2 separate regions of the Homo sapiens genome follow, and region 1 is linked to region 2. Evidence: fine-mapped expression QTL. Tissue or cell type: whole blood. Region 2 holds a variant in brackets; the other region holds the start of a gene. All regions are shown on one strand. Distances are between the middles of the regions.

Region 1 (8,143 bases), 23 kb before region 2:
CAAGACCGCTGAGTGGGTCAAATGGTGCATGCAAAGTATCTGCATGCTGGGAAGTACTGTACATGTATTAGTTATCAATGTTACCCTCAGATACCGCCAAAACTGCACCTGTCGCACACGTATCTCCTACAGACCTTTTAAGGGCACTCAGATACTCAGCAAAGCCCTCATTCTCCTTCACGTCCTCTCTGCTCCAAAAAGCCTGTGCCAAGGACAAGCCAGACGAATGAGCTGTGCCAGGGGTTGTTGGCAAGATGCCTACAGGCCTCTTCCCCACGAATGCCCGCTTTTTAGCTCTAACCTTCCCTAGGTTAATGAATCCTATCTCTTAGACCTTCTGCTCCACGGGCCATTCAAATTTGGAGGCCCTTAGGAAACAACAACATAACGGGGTCCCAGTCCAGGCAAATTACTGTCACCTCTGTTAGGCTGGCTTCTCTGGAACTCGTCTAATCGGACTATCCCCGCCCCCCAATCTTCCCCCAGATCCCCTCTTCCTCTCCCTCCAAGCCTCCCTAGCCCAGCCTCCTTATTTTCCTTCTTCGCCTTCTGAACACACACTGGATGCCTTCTCTGGGCCAGACACTGGGCTGGGCGCAGTGCGCTGTGCAGAGAACAGGACCAGGGCCCGGCCCTCCGAGAGCTGCCCCCGCCCGCCCTCGCGGCCCTGGCCCCAGCCCGCCCCTCACCGCAGCAGGTCCTGCAGCACCGTGGCCAGCCCCAGCGGGACGCTCCCCTTGCGCTGAAAGGCCTCCTGCAAGTCCCGCAGACGCAGGCGCACCACCCCCTGGCGGCGGCTGTGGCTCAGCACCAACGGCGCCCAGAAGCCCATCTTGCTGTCCCAGTCGGTGCTGTTCACCTCGCGACTCCTCTTGAAAGCGGAGAACAGGAAGGACATGCGCTCCTCGTCCTCCTCCCACTCGGGGGGCAGAAGGCCCGCCGGGTCTCCCCCGGCTGGGGCCTCGGCCTCCCGCTCCGGGGACCACATCGGAACCCCAGCCCCGGCAAGGCTGCGAACACAAGCCTGGCCCTGGTCCGCTTCCGCCCTCGTTCCCTCCCGGCTTCCGTTCCTTGACCACCTCCTTCTCGTTCACACGTCACCGCCGCCCTGAGCGTGAAATAAGTTCCATAAGTCTTCAAGGCGCATGCGTTGCGCTGCGCTCCGTCAGCCAGGAGGCAGTATGATGAAGTTCTTTTCAGAGAGACACCGAGCGCTTGCGCCGACCCCTCCTCCCACGGTCTTTGTGCCGAAAGAAAGGCTTGCGCCTGCGCGGCAGGTGGCTGCACCTTACGTCTCCTTCAAGATTCTGGAGTTCGGCAAAGCGTTGTACAGCGGCTTCTGACCTGTGGCTTCAGAAAATGGAACTGGGGAATAGCCGCAGAGGGGCGCCAGTGGTGCCCGGACCACCCGGATGGATCCGTGAATCTCTGTATAGAGGGAAATTTATATCAATGAATGCACAAACCAGAAAAGAAGAAAGATCTAAAATAACCTAAGATTCCACCTTGGGAATCTATAAAAGAAGAACAAATTAAGATCAAATTAAACAGAAGAGAAAAAATAATAAAAAGAGCAGAAATCAATGAAATTGAAAACAAACTCAAAAGATTATCAACAAAACCTAAAGCTGATTTTTTGAAAAGGTCAATGAAATTGATTAACCTCTAGCCTGGCTAACAAAGAGAAAAAACAAATACTCAATATCAGAAATGAAATAAGGGACATTACTGCAGATCCCATGGGCATGAAAATGATAATAAAGGAATACTATGAATAACTGTATGTCCACAAATTTGATAACCTAGACGAAATGGACACATTTCTTGAAAGCACACTCTGCCAAAACACACAAGAGGAAACAGACCACTTGAATATGTTTATATCTAATTAATTGAATCAATAATTAACAACATCCACACAGAAAGCATTAGGCCCAGATGGTTTCATTTGATAAGTTCTACCAAATATTTAAGAAAAAAGTTGTACCAGTTCTGTGCCATCTCTTTTATAAGATAGAAACAAAAGGAATACTTCCCAACTGATCCTATGAGGCAAGGATTACCCTAACGCCAAAACCACACAAAGACATTACAAGAAAGAAAAAACACAAAACAATATATCTTGTGAATATAGATGCAAAAATCATCAATAGAATGTTAGCAAATTGAAACCCACAATGTATCAAAAGAATTGTACACCAGGTTAAAGCGGAATTTATTACAGCTAGGCAAGGCTAGTTCAATGTTCAAAAATCAATTAATATAATCCACCAACAGACTAAAGAAAAATCATATGATCATATTGCTAGATGCAGAAAAAGCATTTGACAAAATCCAACACCAGCTCATGATAAAAAGTCTCGGCACTCTAGGAATAGAGGGACACATCCTCCACTTGATAAAGAACATAAACAGGAACCTTACAGCCAACATAAGAATTAATGGTGAAAACCTAGATCGTTTTCCAGTGGAATCAGGAATAACACAAGAATGTCTGCTCACACCATTCCTAGTCAACACTGTACGGGAAATCCTAGCTAACACAGTTAGCCAAGAAAAAGAAATAAAAGTTGTACAGACTGAAGAGGAAGAAATAAAATGGTCTGTCTTTATAGAAGACATAATTATCCATGCAGAAAATTATGAAAGAATTGCCAAATCGATGTCCTGGAACTAAGAGGCAATGAGAACAAGATTGCAGATACAAAGTTAATGTATAAAAGTCAATTCCCATATACCTATAATGATCAAGTGGAATATGAAATTAAAAATGCAATACCATTTACATTAGCACCCCCCTATAAAACTTAGGTATAAATCTAACACGGTATGTACAAATTCTACATAAGGAAAACTACAAAATTCTGATGAAAGAAATCTATGAAGGACTAAATAAATACAGAGGCATTTTATATTCATGGACAGGAAAACTCAATATTATCAAGATATCAATTCTTCCCAAATTGATCTGTAGATCCAGTGAAATCCCAGTGAAAATCATGGCTAGTTATTTTGTGGATATCAACAAACTAATTCTAAAGTTTATGTGGAAAGGCAAAAGACCCAGAAGAGCCAACACAATATTGAACAAATAAGTCAGAGGACGGATACAACCCAACTTCAAGAATTACTATAAATCAACAGTAATCAAGATAGTGTGGTATTAGTTAAAGAATAAACAAATAGATAAATGGAACAGAATAGGAATCCCAGAAATAGGCACATGTAAATACAGTCAACTGACCTTTCGAAAAAAGAAAGGCAATACAATGGTTCAAAGAGTCTTTTCAACAATGAGCACTGGAACAACTGTACACCTACATGCAAAAACAAAAACAAATCCAGGTACAGATCTTACACCATTCACAAAAGCCAGCTCAAATGGATCATGGACTTAAATGTAAAAACACAAAACAATAAAACTCCTAGAAGACAAAACATCTAGATGACCTTGGGCATCATGATTACTTTTTAGATACAACACAAAAAGCATAATCCATGAAAGAAATAATTGATAAATTAGACGTAATTATTATTATTATTATTATTTGCTTTCTGAAAGACACTGTGAAGAGAATGTGAAGATAAGCCACAGACTGGTAGAAACTATTTGCAAAAGACATCTCTGATAAAGGACTGTTATCCAAAACACACGAGGAACTCTTAAGACTCAAAAAAAAAAGAAAAAGAATAACCCAGTTAAAACATGGATAAAAGATCTGAGCAGACCTCTCACCAAAGAAGATCTACCAACGGCAAATAAGTATATGATAATATGCCCAACATCATATGTCATTGGGGAACAGCAAATTAGACAAGAATAGCATACTACTACACACCTATTAGAATGGTGAAAATCCAAAATACTGACCACACCAAATGCTGGTGAGGATGCAGAGCAACAGGAACTCTCATTCATTGCTGGTGGAAATGCAAACTGGTACAGCTACCGTAAGGTTGGCCAAGAGAAAAGACGAGTATACTCAAAGTCAGGCAAGCAAGTTTATTGACCTGCCGGCCTGCTGCATAACAGTCAGAGGAGGCAGCCCAGGGTGTTTAAGGTGAGGGACTTATATAGGGCTTTGAGGGCCTAGGGGCTTTCTGAGGTTAGTCTACATCCTGCAGTTGTTTGTCACTTCTTGCCCCACCTGGCTTAGAGTACCAGGATGTGGTTTGGCCTGGGGGTGGATACAGCTGTACCTAAGTTCTGGTAACGTGAAGTAGGGGCAGCATCTCAGAAGAAATAAGCTGCAGGGCATTTAGGGGAGGGGGCTTGCTGCGTTCTTCTGTGGACAGGTTGTCTCTAAGAGCTACTTTGGAAGACAGTTTGGTCGTTTTTCACAAAATTAAACATTCTCTTCCCATGCAAGTTTACTTATAGTTTAACTTTGAAACAAAGTATAACAGTCCTTTCCCAAAACAAAACTCCTTACTGCCTGTGGACTAGACTGCCTAGACTGCCACAAGATTAGAAGTTATGGTAATTTTACTAAATCAAGATGTAGCTATTTTCATTAAACCAGTATCAATGTCTTATTTATTAATGGTTACACGAGCAGAGATCATTCTGTCTTGGGCTGGGTTTATAGCCTGTGCCAAATTTTGACACCTAATAGTATTTGGCAGGGTTAAGTATGAAATTGCTTGATTAATAAACGCAAATAAAAATGTATGCTGGCAATTCCTAAGACATTTCTAATATTACTTTACCAATAATTTTAAAGATAGCTTATTTATTAAAGATTTTACTTAAGTCACATAACTTGAAAAAGCATTTGACTAGTCTTTCCTTTTTCTAATAAAGTATTTGATGTAAATGCTTTTATTTTTTAAGACAATTAATTAGAGCTCTTTGATATATTTTCAGGAGTGCAACATTGTATACATAACATATAAATACATAGATGTATTAGGCATGCTGATAGAAGAAGTACATCTTACAGATTCATAAAAACCTTTTTTCTTTATCTTAGACTTTCAGATTCTTGATAACCTGTTTCACAGTGCTAGGCAGTAGTCAGCTAAATAGTCTTAAATTTGCATATTAAAGGAAACAACTCAGGTGAAAGTCAGATAGCAAAATTTACATTATAAGGTCTGAAGAGAAATTCTGTGAGCTAGAGGGAAATTAAAACAGATTTAATTGCCAATTGAACATAAAATTATAGAAATTTATCACTGGATTGTATAAGGAGACCACTGTTATTTAGATAGGGACTACCAATTCTTTTTTAACTGGATCTCTGAGCTCTGGGCAGAGCCCACACTGAATCCTGGGTCTCCAAAAAGGGAGAATTATTATGAGGCTAGACCACATGATGCTTTTACAGTGCACTTAAAACATTTTTGTAAACAAAGCATTTCTAAGTGTCTAAACTATACTCTTTCTTAAAAACCCAAGAGTAGCCTCTGTTGCAATAACTATTTTAGTAAAAAAAAAAAAAAAAATCGAGTGGAAACAGAATTGAGTCAATTGAGAACAAAAAAAGTTTTTGCTCAAAAAAAGACAAGGTCCTAGCAGAGAAAAACAAAAACAAAACCATGAAGGCCTTTTAAATATGAACATGCACTTATGCACACATACACATACACATACATTTTAAATATTAGCTTTTAATTAAGTTGACTTTTAACTATTGAGTGTCTTTAAAAATAAAAAATCTTGGGCTGGGTGCAGTGGCTCATGCCTGTAATCCCAGGACTTTGGGAGGCCCAGGCGGGCGGATCATGAGGTCAGGAGATGGAGACCATCCTGGCTAACATGGTGAAACCCCGTCTCCACTAAAAATACAAAAATTAGCCGAGTGTGGTGGCACGCGCCTGTAGTCCCAGCTACTCAGGAGGCTGAGGCAGGAGAATCGCTTGAACCCGGGAGGCAGAGTTTGCAGTGAGCCAAGATCGTGCCACTGCACTCCAGCCTGGCGACAGAGCAAGACTCTGTCTCAAAAAAAAAAAATTCAAAATTTTATTATTATATTTCAGCTAGGACAAATTGCTGCTATTTCAGAAGTACCAAGTATTGGTCCGGCGCGGTGGCTCACACCTGTAATCCCAGCACTTTGGGAGGCCGACGCTGGTGGATCACCTGAGCTCAGGAGTTCGAGACCAGCTTGACCAACATGGAGAAACCCCATCTCTACTAAGAAATTCAAAAGGCACATGCCTATAATCCCAGCTACTCGGGAGGCTGAGGCAGGAGAATTGCTTGAACCCGGGAGGCGGAGGTTACGGTGAGCTGAGACCACGCCATTGGACTCCAGCCTGGGCAACAAGAACGGAACTCTGTCTCAAAAAAAAAAAAAAAAAAAAAAAAAAAGCAGAAGTACCAACTATCAAACCAGAAAGGACTTGATTTAGGAACCAAACTTAGGCTGTCATGAAGACAGGAGAAAAAAAAAGGCAGAACCTTAGCTATTGAACTGCAGAGTAGGGGGACAGCCATTGCTTTCAGTTTGGCCTGGTTAGCAAAAAGGAGGCTTTGTTATGTAAATAAAACCCCTTAAGTAATAAAAATAAAACATTTTTCTTGCCGGCCGGGTGCGGTGGCTCAAGCCAGTAATCCCAGCACTTTGGGAGGCCGAGGCAGGCAGATCACCAGGTCAGGAGATCCAGACCATCCTGGCTAACACGGTGAAACCCCGTCTCTACCAAAAAATACAAAAAAATTAGCCAGGCGTAGTGGCGGGTGCCTTAGTCCCAGCTACTCGGGAGGCTGAGGCAGGAGAATGGCGTGAACCCGGGAGGCAGAGCTTGCAGTGAGCCGAGATCGCGCCACTGCACTCCAGCCCGGGCGACAGAGAGCGACTCCGTCTCAAAAAAAAAAAAAAAAGTTTTTATTTATTTTTTTTCTTTTGTTGGCCGTTTTTCTCCCCTCACTATACCACCTTTTTTTGTGTATGGGAATTTAGCCACTTTAGAGGCCTTGTTCCTCATAATTTGGAACTTTCCTTCGGATTTGATTGAGTTGGACAGAGTTGGTCAAACCCAACGGGAGAAAGACTGAAACAACAAAAACAGAAACAAATAAACATCAACAACAACAAAAAAGTTAAGCAAAACAAACAATCTCACAACTTAACATAATTCCTGAGCACTGTAATGGTAAGGAGAAATAAAGACCAGCTGGTTTTTAATCTTAACTTTAGCCAAGATAAACCCCAATTCAGTTGCTTATCTAGGAATGGATCTCAGGCTGTAGACCACTCTCTACCATCCTAGAAGCAGAAAAACAAACAAAACAACAACAACAACAACAACAACAACAACAAACTCACCTTCCCTGTTGGAAGTGAGCTCAAACTCCATAAAGGAGTTACCTATCTTCCATCATCATGGAAGCAGGAAAACTTGCCTTTCTTGTTGGAAGCAAGTAAAACTCCAAAAAAAAAAAGTTGTATAGCAAAATAAACTTTAGATTTCAACCAAATTTGGGAAGATAGTAATTCTCTTGGTGGGGCGGAGGGGTGAGGGGTGGGTTGCTCTCAGACCTCAGCAAATTGTCCCATAGGTTTGAGCCATAAAGTAAGCTCATGCTGGTACCAAGCACCAATAGGTGCTTGTCAAATCTAGCTTGTCAGAGGCTAGATTTGTCAGAGGTGGGGAGCATTCCACTCAGAATCCCTTTATGGTTATTAAATATGGGCCCAGAATATCTGAGACGGGTCTCAGTTAATTTAGAAAGTTTATTTTGCTGGCCGGGCGCGGTGGCTCACGCCTGTAATCCCAGCACTTTGGGAGGCCAAGGTGGGCAGATCACCAGGTCAGGAGATCGAGACCATCCTGGCTAAGACGGTGAAACCACGTCTCTACTAAAAATACAAAAAATTAGCCGGGCATGGTGGCAGGTGCCTGTAGTCCCAGCTACTCGGGAGGCTGAGGCAGGAGAATGGCGTGAACCTGGGAGGCAGAGCTTGCAGTGAGCGGAGATCACATCACTGCACTCCAGCCTGGGCAACAGAGCAAGACTCCATCTCAAAAAAAAAAAAAAAAAGGTTTATTTTGCCAAGCTGAAGACGTGTGCTCATGACACAGACTCAGGAAGGCCTGAGGACATGTGCCCAAGGAGGTCAGGGCACAGCTTTGTTTTACACATTTTAGGGAGACATGAGATATCAATCAATATATGTAAGAAGTACATTGGTTT
Region 2 (8,191 bases):
TCCGCCTTCCTGGTTCAAGCGATTCTCCTGCCTCAGCCTCCCGAGTAGCTGGGAGTACAGGCTCCTGCCACCACGCCCGGCTAATTTTTTGTATTTTTAGTAGTCACGGGGTTTCACTGTGTTAGCCAAATCCGCCCGCCTCGGCCTCCCAAAGTGCTGGGATTACAGGCGTGAGCCACCGCGCCCGGCCCTCCATCCTTCTTTTCTTAGACAAATTGGTTAAACACGCAGCCCGGCAGGAAAAAGTAACTTTCTCTCCTCTGCTCGTTGTCTTCCGTTTCGAGTCCACTGAGCACACCGGCAGCAGTTTCCTTCCAGCCACTTTCTTGCGCATCAACAGGTACAGGGCAGCGAATTGACCACCACGAGGCAGGCAGCCAGGAGCGGGGCACGCCCTTCCTTCAGGAGGCAGCGTTTCCTGTGAAAGCAATCACTCAGTCTGGAAAAATGCCAATGCCTTCAGTTCTCTTTCAAGTTCATTAAGGCTCTACCAATTGTTCTCATCCAGATTCCTTCTATGTTAAGGAAAAACAAAACGAAAGCTAAGTACCTGAAGGATAAACCAGTCTTACAAGTGTCAGGAAATTTTACGTGTTTTTGTTTAACAAACTAAACAAAATCCAGGAATCCAATAGCATTTTGAAATCTCCAAATAATTACAGAATTTATGTTTTAAACGTCAGTTTATGTTAGGTGGAACCCACGTTTGACTCTTATTTTTAATACGCTTATTAAATGGCTTTCTTTTTGACAGGCTAGTGCGATTCCAGGTGGATGTAGGGCTCACCTGTATAGACAAGGTGAAACATCTGAATTTGGTGGTTTTGGAAATGTCACAGTCCGTTGGTGTGGCTATAAAAGAATACTTGAGGCCAGGCGCGGTGGCTCACGCCTGTAATCCCAGCACTCTGGGAGGCCGAGGCGGGCGGATCACGAGGTCAGGAGATCGAGACGATCCTGGCCAACACGGTGAAACCCCGTCTCTATTAAAAATACAAAAAATTAGCCAGGCGTGGTGGTGGCCGCCTGTAGTCCCAGCTACTCGGGAGGCTGAGGCGGGAGAATGGCGTGAACCTGGGAGGCGGAGCTTCCAGTGAGCCGAGACCACGCCACTGCACTCCAGCCTGGGCGACAGAGGGAGACTCCGTTTCGGAAAAGAAAAAAAATAAAAAAGAAAACTTGACGCTGGATAATTTTAAAAGAGGCTTATTTGGCACATGGTTCTGCAGGCTGTACAAGAAGCATGCCACCAGCATCTGCCTCTGGTGAGGCCTCAGGAAACTTCCACTGGTGGTGAAGGGGAAGGACAGCTGGATTCTGCCCATCAGGGGAAGGGGTGGGGAGGATGGCAGGAGGAGGGGGATGAGATCCGGAAGGGAGACGGGGAGGGGCCAGGTTCATTCTAACAACCAGGTGTCATGGGGAACTAAGATTGACAACTCCTGGGGGAATGTGGGAGGGGGCGGTTATGGCACCAAGCCTTTCATGAGGGATCCACCCCAAACCCCAACAGGCCCCACCAGCTACATTACGGTTCAGATTTCAACGTGAGCCCTGGCAGGGACAAAGGACCCGTAGCAGACACCAAGGCCTTCTGCCATCCCACAGGACCCTCTCATCCCACCATCCCTCAGCCTTCTTCCTGTGCATTTATAGGCACCTTAACTTTTAAAATTCTGACTGAAGAACAAATCGCATTGGATGTTTTCTATCAGTACATGCAAGTATCTCATTCTTTTTAACAGCATCATAATATTTAGTGCATGGGTGAAACACATGGCGTGAACCACAGTTAATTTTAATCTTCCATCCCATGGGCAATTGTTAACATTATGTCCTGCTTTTGTTTTTTCTAATTCCAGCAGCATTGTAGTGAGAACCCTTGTATGTGTCATATGTCCATATGTCAATGTTCCCTGAAGTATCGGGCAGCCCTTTAGAAGAGGAATTTTTAGGTACATGAGCTCATCAATGTAGAATTTTGTTTGGATATTGCTAAATTGTACTTCGGGAGAAGATTGTGCCAGTTTTACTCTCACACCAAGAATACAAAAGTGTGGCCGGGTGCGGTGGCTAACGCCTGTAATCCCAGCACTTTGGGAGGCCGAGACAGGTGGATCACGAGGTCAGGAGATCCAGACCATCCTGGCTAACACGGTGAAACCCCGTCTCTACTAAAAATTGAAAAAAATTAGCCAGGCACGGTGGCGGGCGCCTGTAGTCCCAGCTACTCGGGAGGCTGAGGCAGGAGAATGGCGTGAACCCGGGAGGCAGAGCTTGCAGTGAGCCGAGATCTCGCCACTGCACTCCAGCCTGGGCGACTGAGCGAGACTCCGTTTCAAGAAAAAAAAAAAAGAATACACAAGCGTGCCCGTGTCCCTGCACCCTTACTACATGGAACTTTCATTCTTTGCTACTCTAAGAGGTAAAAAATGATAGACCTCAATGTTGTATTTTTTGTTTCAGTGTTATTAGAGATTTTCAAGGATCCAGGAATTTTTTGAGACTGGGAGTAGATGACCTAGAGACTCCAGATTAGACCGTTGGGGAGGGAGCAGGGAAGACTGCAGTCGCACCTCTGCACTTAGGAAACTGTGGTCGGCTGGGGCCAGTTCCTGCCACCCGCCATGCCTGTGAATGGAGATAATGTCTCTGTCCTCAGACTGTCAGGATGACATCAGATGAGCCTGGAGCTGAGCTCAGTTTCTCACCCCAGGTCCTGGCTCTGTCAATGCTGGACTGGCCCAATCTCTGTGCCAGGTCCTTCCACCTCGTCTCGTCTCTCTCTTTATCAAAGTAGGAAATGAGAAATTCTGATGGCTCTGAAGCTTAGACACTCAGGCTATCAGAGCCCAGAGATTGGAGGCTGAAGACAGCCAGGGTTGGCCGTGCTCCTCTTCAGCTCTGTGACTCTGCTGTGGCCCCAGCTCCTTCCTATAAACTAGGTGGATATAAAAGTCTGCAGCGGCCCTGTGTAAACCACAGTGGTCTGTGTTGGCAGATGTGTGCTGTCGTGTGGGAGGACAAATCACATGCTCAGGGCTGGTGTCAGTCACTCAGGACTCTGGATCCCCAGAGCACCTGTCCTCTACCCAGCAGAGGCTGCACCTGCTCCCACCTGCACCTCCATACTGGCTCTCTGAGCTTGGGGCAGAAGGTTCTAAGGAATGGGGTGGAGCGCCATGGGGAGGGGCCGTGGAGGAACAGAGGAGCCAGACTTCAAGTTAGGACAAAGATGTCACTGCAGGGCCACAGCCTGGCTTACCTGCCACGTTTCCTTCCAGTTGTCCTTCTGGTGGGCACCCGGCACTGGTTGCAGTTTGAAGAGTGAGCAGGAAAGGTCTCCATCCATGTGGCTGCAGATGGCTGCTCACCCAGCCCCTACTGAGAGGCAACAGTCCCAGTTCTGGTCCTCTGTCCTGTATCCAGGAGTGACAGGGCAGCAAGGCTTTAGCTTCCAGGTCGGAGATGGGGACAGTGCCATGCCCTGAGCCTGTGCTGTTGGGCAGTTGGTGTCACTTAGTCTGGAAAAATGCCAGTGCCTTCAGTTCTCTTTCAAGTTCATTAGGACAGGTGCCCTGGGGATCCAGAGTCATGAGTGACTGACACCAGCCCTGAGCATGTGATTTGTCCTCCTACACGGCAGCACACATCTGCCAACACAGACCACTGTGGTTTATAAAGGGCCGCTGCAGATTTTATATCTGCCTAGTTTATAGGAAGGAGCTGGGGCCACAGCAGAGTCACAGCTGAAGAGGAGCACGGCCAACCCTGGCAGTCTTCAGCCTCCAATCTCTGGGCTCTTTGATAGCCTGAGTGTCTAAGCTTCAGAGCCTTCAGAATTTCTCAATTTCTACTTTGCTAAAGAGAGAGGTGAGGTGGAAGGACCTGGCATAGAGATTGGGCCAGCCCAGCCAGAGACTGCACATCTTCATTCAGGGTATTTTCCTAACCCAGGGATGTGGGGATTGTTGCTCTCATTTTGTCTGGGGAGAAAATGAGATTTAGGAGGAGGAAGTCCCCAGCATTTGGGACCTGGCCTGCTTGATAATAGCAGCTGCCTGTTGGACTGGGAAGGGCCTCTTCCGGATTCCCAGGCAGGTATCTGTGATAATGGGGAAAGGAGAAAGGGTCTGCTTTGTAGGGAAGAGCAGGGTGCACTCGGCACCTCAGACACTCGCCTGTGGCCAGGAGGGGATGTGAATCATCACATTTTACAGAGGAGAGGACCAAAGCTCAGAGAGGGAAAGTGTGTGCAGCTCAGAGGGGGAACGTGTGTGCACCTGGCCACAGGCAAGTCTGTCCAGAGCACTGGTAGGAATGAGAGAAACTAGGAATGACCACTTTAAAAACTTAGATGAAGAGAATCTCAAAGTTAAGTCATTGGAGTTTGTTGGTAATATATTTGTGTGGCTTAGGTCATGTTAAGTGCATCACACCCTCGCCCCCATGTCTGCTGTTGGTCTCAGCACTGGGTGGAGGGAGCGGGGACAGTCCTGATGAAGAGGAGAGGGGAGCAGCACCGGCTGGGGTGGGGCCTCTGCCGCTGCCTCTTCCTGTGTGGTTTTTCAGGGCTTAGGCTGC[G/C]CCTCTCACCTGGCTTGTCTGTGGGGAGGAGATCTTTGTTCTCTGGCTGCTTTTAAGATTTTCTCCTTAACAGTGTGGTTTCAGCACTTCGATGGTGGCAAAAATAATCTGCCGGAGCCATGTCTGTAGCATTTTTGGTCTCCCCTTCTGTATAATAGCAGCCGTGTTTTGGCTTCTGCAGGGCTAAAGTCCTCTGAGCAGCTGCTTCTCCACATCTCTGCCCTGCACTTGGCCTCTGGGAGCTCCTAGGGTTCCTTAGCAGAGTCCACAGGACTCTTCGGGGTCCCATCCCTGTGCTGTAGCCTGGAACCTGTGACCTGAGGCGGTGAGCTGAGGCCACCACTGGGCTCACCTCATGGGCTTGGAGGGAAAGTCACTCACCCAGGAAGTAGGTGATGAGCACTTTACTCTGAGAATGTCTGCGCCTGGTGGTGGTGGGAGGACAAATGAGCCCTGTGTCAGTCCTGCTCCCTGAAGCCCACAGTCTGGTGGAGGAGGTGTCACTAGGGACCTAAATAACTATCAGGAAGCATGGGGGCCACCTCCCCCACCCCCCACCTCCAGAGAGGCTGTGCCGGCTCCAGGGATGCCATCCCTCCCTACTTGACTCCAGCAGTTGCAAGGCCCCAGGTCATGGTATTGGTGGCTTAGAGGATGTGGTTTCATTAAAATCAACATTGAGGGGAATGATTGTACTAACAACAGCATGTGCTGAAATACAGTACTTGCGTGTGCCAAGCTCTGTTCTTAGCACTTCATATGTAAATGAACACACTTAATCCTCATACAACCAGACTGTACAGGAACCCTCATTGTCTTTGTTTTAGACAAACAGCATGAGACTCAGAACATTTGTTCAGTAGAGGGGCTGGGCAGGAGGATGAGCAACCCTCGGGGCAGCAGCAGTGATTGGGTCACTGGGTTCTGCTGACCTTTCCCAGGGGAGTATTTGGTGCTTTTTCATGAGGCCTGCATTCACCCAGCGCTGGGTCACTGCTGGGGGTACCTGAGAAGTCATGTAAAGCCACCTCTTATTTCCAGAATGATAGACATGTTTAGAGAAGAAGTGGCTTCCCCCAGACCATGAGGCTGGCCCGAGACTACAAGACAGATGGCTTGCTTCTTAACCCAGGGGTCTTTTTATACCAAAAGAACAAAGAAATAAAAAAGCCACGAAAGACTCAAAGGAAGCAGATTTTCGACCACAGCCAACCTCAGAACAATTCTGAGTTGCTCATTTTAAGATCAATAAGGCATTTTTTTAGGGTGTGTATGCCTGAGAGAGGAAATCAGTGTGAATATCAAACTTACCTCTGAAACAGCCTAACACAATGCTAATCCGAGAGGAACAAGGCAAGGAAACCCCCTGGTGAATGACTCATCTCAGGAAGAGGCAGGGCAGGGTCAGGAGAGTCTATGGAGGAGAAGACCTGGAACAAGACCTCTCTCTCTTGCTCTCTTTCTCTCTCTCCCTCTCTCTCTCTCACACACACAAACACACACACAACCTCACACCCCCATGAGCCCAAATCTGTGAACTGAGAACCTCACTTCTCTGACCTCACCTTCCATCTCCCTTAATCAGACGCCCACAAACCTCAGAGTTGTGTCCCAGCATCACTTGTTTTGACTGCCCTCCCCGACTGCCTTGACTTCGTATCTGCCTAGGAACCTGCCTGTGTGGACTTTTCCCTCTATGTGGACCTTTCCCTCTATGTCTACCGGTGTCCCTGCCACCAGTGGCATTTGTCACCTCTGCCTGGGCAGCCCCTCGTGACTCGGGTTATTGATGGCTGTGCCTCATCTCCCTGGGAACTGGAACTGTCCTAAGGAAAGGGAGGGTCGTGCCTTTTTCTTGATACCCCACGATTCCTTGCACAGCGTTTCTACCAGGCGCCGACATGCCCTCCTTGGATGAATGAGTAACATGGGTTCTAGGAAGCCCGCACCAATGCAGATGTGACGTCCTCAGCCTTTCATAGACATGTTTCATGTGAGAGGTGGGAAGAACAGCTGAACAGAAGGCTGAGCACTGTCCAGGTCCAGAGTCACCAGGAGCTCGTTGTCAGGTTTTCACTTGCTATTAGTAGAGATTTTTTTTTAAGGTACTATTTTTAGTGTTAGAAGTGAATTCAGGCCGGGCGCAGTGGCTCACCCCTGTAATCCCAGCACTTCGGGAGGCTGAGGTGGGCAGATCACGAGGTCAAGGAGATCGAGACCATCCTGACCAACATGGTGAAACCCCATCTCTACTAAAAATACAAAAATTAGCTGGGTGTGGTGGCATTTGCCTGTAATCTCAGCTACTGGGGAGGGCTGAGGCAGGAGAATCACTTGAACCAGGGATTCGGAGGTTGCAGTGAGCAGAGATTGTGCCACTGCACTCCAGCCTGGCAACAGAGCAAGACTCCGTCTCAAAAAAGAAAAAAAAAATGAATTCATCAGAAGGCATAATAATCATAAATGTGTATATGTCTAATAGTAGAGCTTTAAAATAAATGAAGCAACGCTCAAAAGGATTAAAGGGAGATCATGTCACCCCCTTCTCAGCAACTGATAGAACGATCAGATGAAAACAGTAAAATAACAGATCTGAACATTGTCAACCACCTTGACTTAACTGACATTTATAGAGCATATATGCAACATCTATGGGAGATTCCTTCTCTTCTATGAACATGGTACTTCACCAAGATAGACCACATTGTGAACTATAAAACAAATCTAAATACATTTAAAACAAAATAATATAAAATATGTTCTCTGATCTCAATGAAATTAAAGTGTTAAGCAATAACAATATCTAGAAGGACTCCAAAAATGTGAATATTAAGCAACATACTTATAAATAACTCATAGTTCACGAATGAAATCAAAGAGAATTCAAAATATTTCTTTTTTTTTTTTTTGAATTGGCTTCTTGCTCTGTCGCCTAGGCTGGAATGCAGTGGCGTGATCCCGGTTCACTGCAACCTCTGCCTCCCGGGTTCAAGTGATTCTCCTGTCTCAGCCTCCCGAGTAGCTGGGACTATAGGCACCTGCCAGCACGCCCGGCTCATTTTTGTATTTTTAGTACAGATAGGGTTTCACCATGTTGCACAGGCTGGTCTTGAACTCCTGACCTCGTGATCCACCCACCTCGGCCTCCCAAAGTGCTGGGATTACAGGCGTGAGCCACCGTGCCTGGCCTGGAGTTTCTTTTGGGGATGATGATGAAAATCTTCAAAAATTGATTTTATTGATGGTTATACACTTCTATAAATATATTTAAAGGAAAGAATTACATCATATATAAAGTATATCTCAGTAAAGTTCTTAAGGATTAAAAGAAGAATGGTATCAAAATCAATGACTCAGAGGTGTGCATTACTTACCCGTAAAATAAGTATAAATTAAACTCAAAGGTAGTAACAACATGACAAGGAAATAATAAGACTGAAATCAATGAAATAGAATTCAAACAATAAAAGGAATCAACAAGCTAAGAGTTGGTTCTCAGAAATGATCAACAAAATTAATAAAAGTAATAAACTGGCCGGACGAGATGGCTCATCCCTGTAATCCCAGCACTTTGGGAGGCCGAGGCAGGCGATTCACCTGAGGTCTG

Evidence for each region. PIP is the estimated chance that this variant, and not a neighbour inherited with it, causes the effect.
Region 1: CHMP7 starts here. The variant in region 2 is fine-mapped to the expression of CHMP7 in whole blood (TOPMed, PIP above 0.99).

The regions. Positions count from the first base shown.
Region 1 is chr8:23,239,541-23,247,683 of GRCh38, reverse strand. It overlaps CHMP7 (charged multivesicular body protein 7), which reads right to left and starts at 4,047. Exons shown (of 11, transcript NM_152272.5): 1 at 3,840-4,047; 2 at 690-1,428. The coding sequence starts at 988. RefSeq lists enhancers at 182-231, 1,035-1,284, 3,854-4,355 and a silencer at 505-1,014.
Region 2 is chr8:23,216,044-23,224,234 of GRCh38, reverse strand. All of the region lies in intron 1 of TNFRSF10A (TNF receptor superfamily member 10a), which reads left to right. Among named protein-coding and RNA genes, the nearest start is that of TNFRSF10A, 5.0 kb to the left of the region's middle. RefSeq lists enhancers at 4,476-4,535, 4,716-4,785, 5,816-6,015. The variant G/C (reference allele first, on the strand shown) is at 4,585.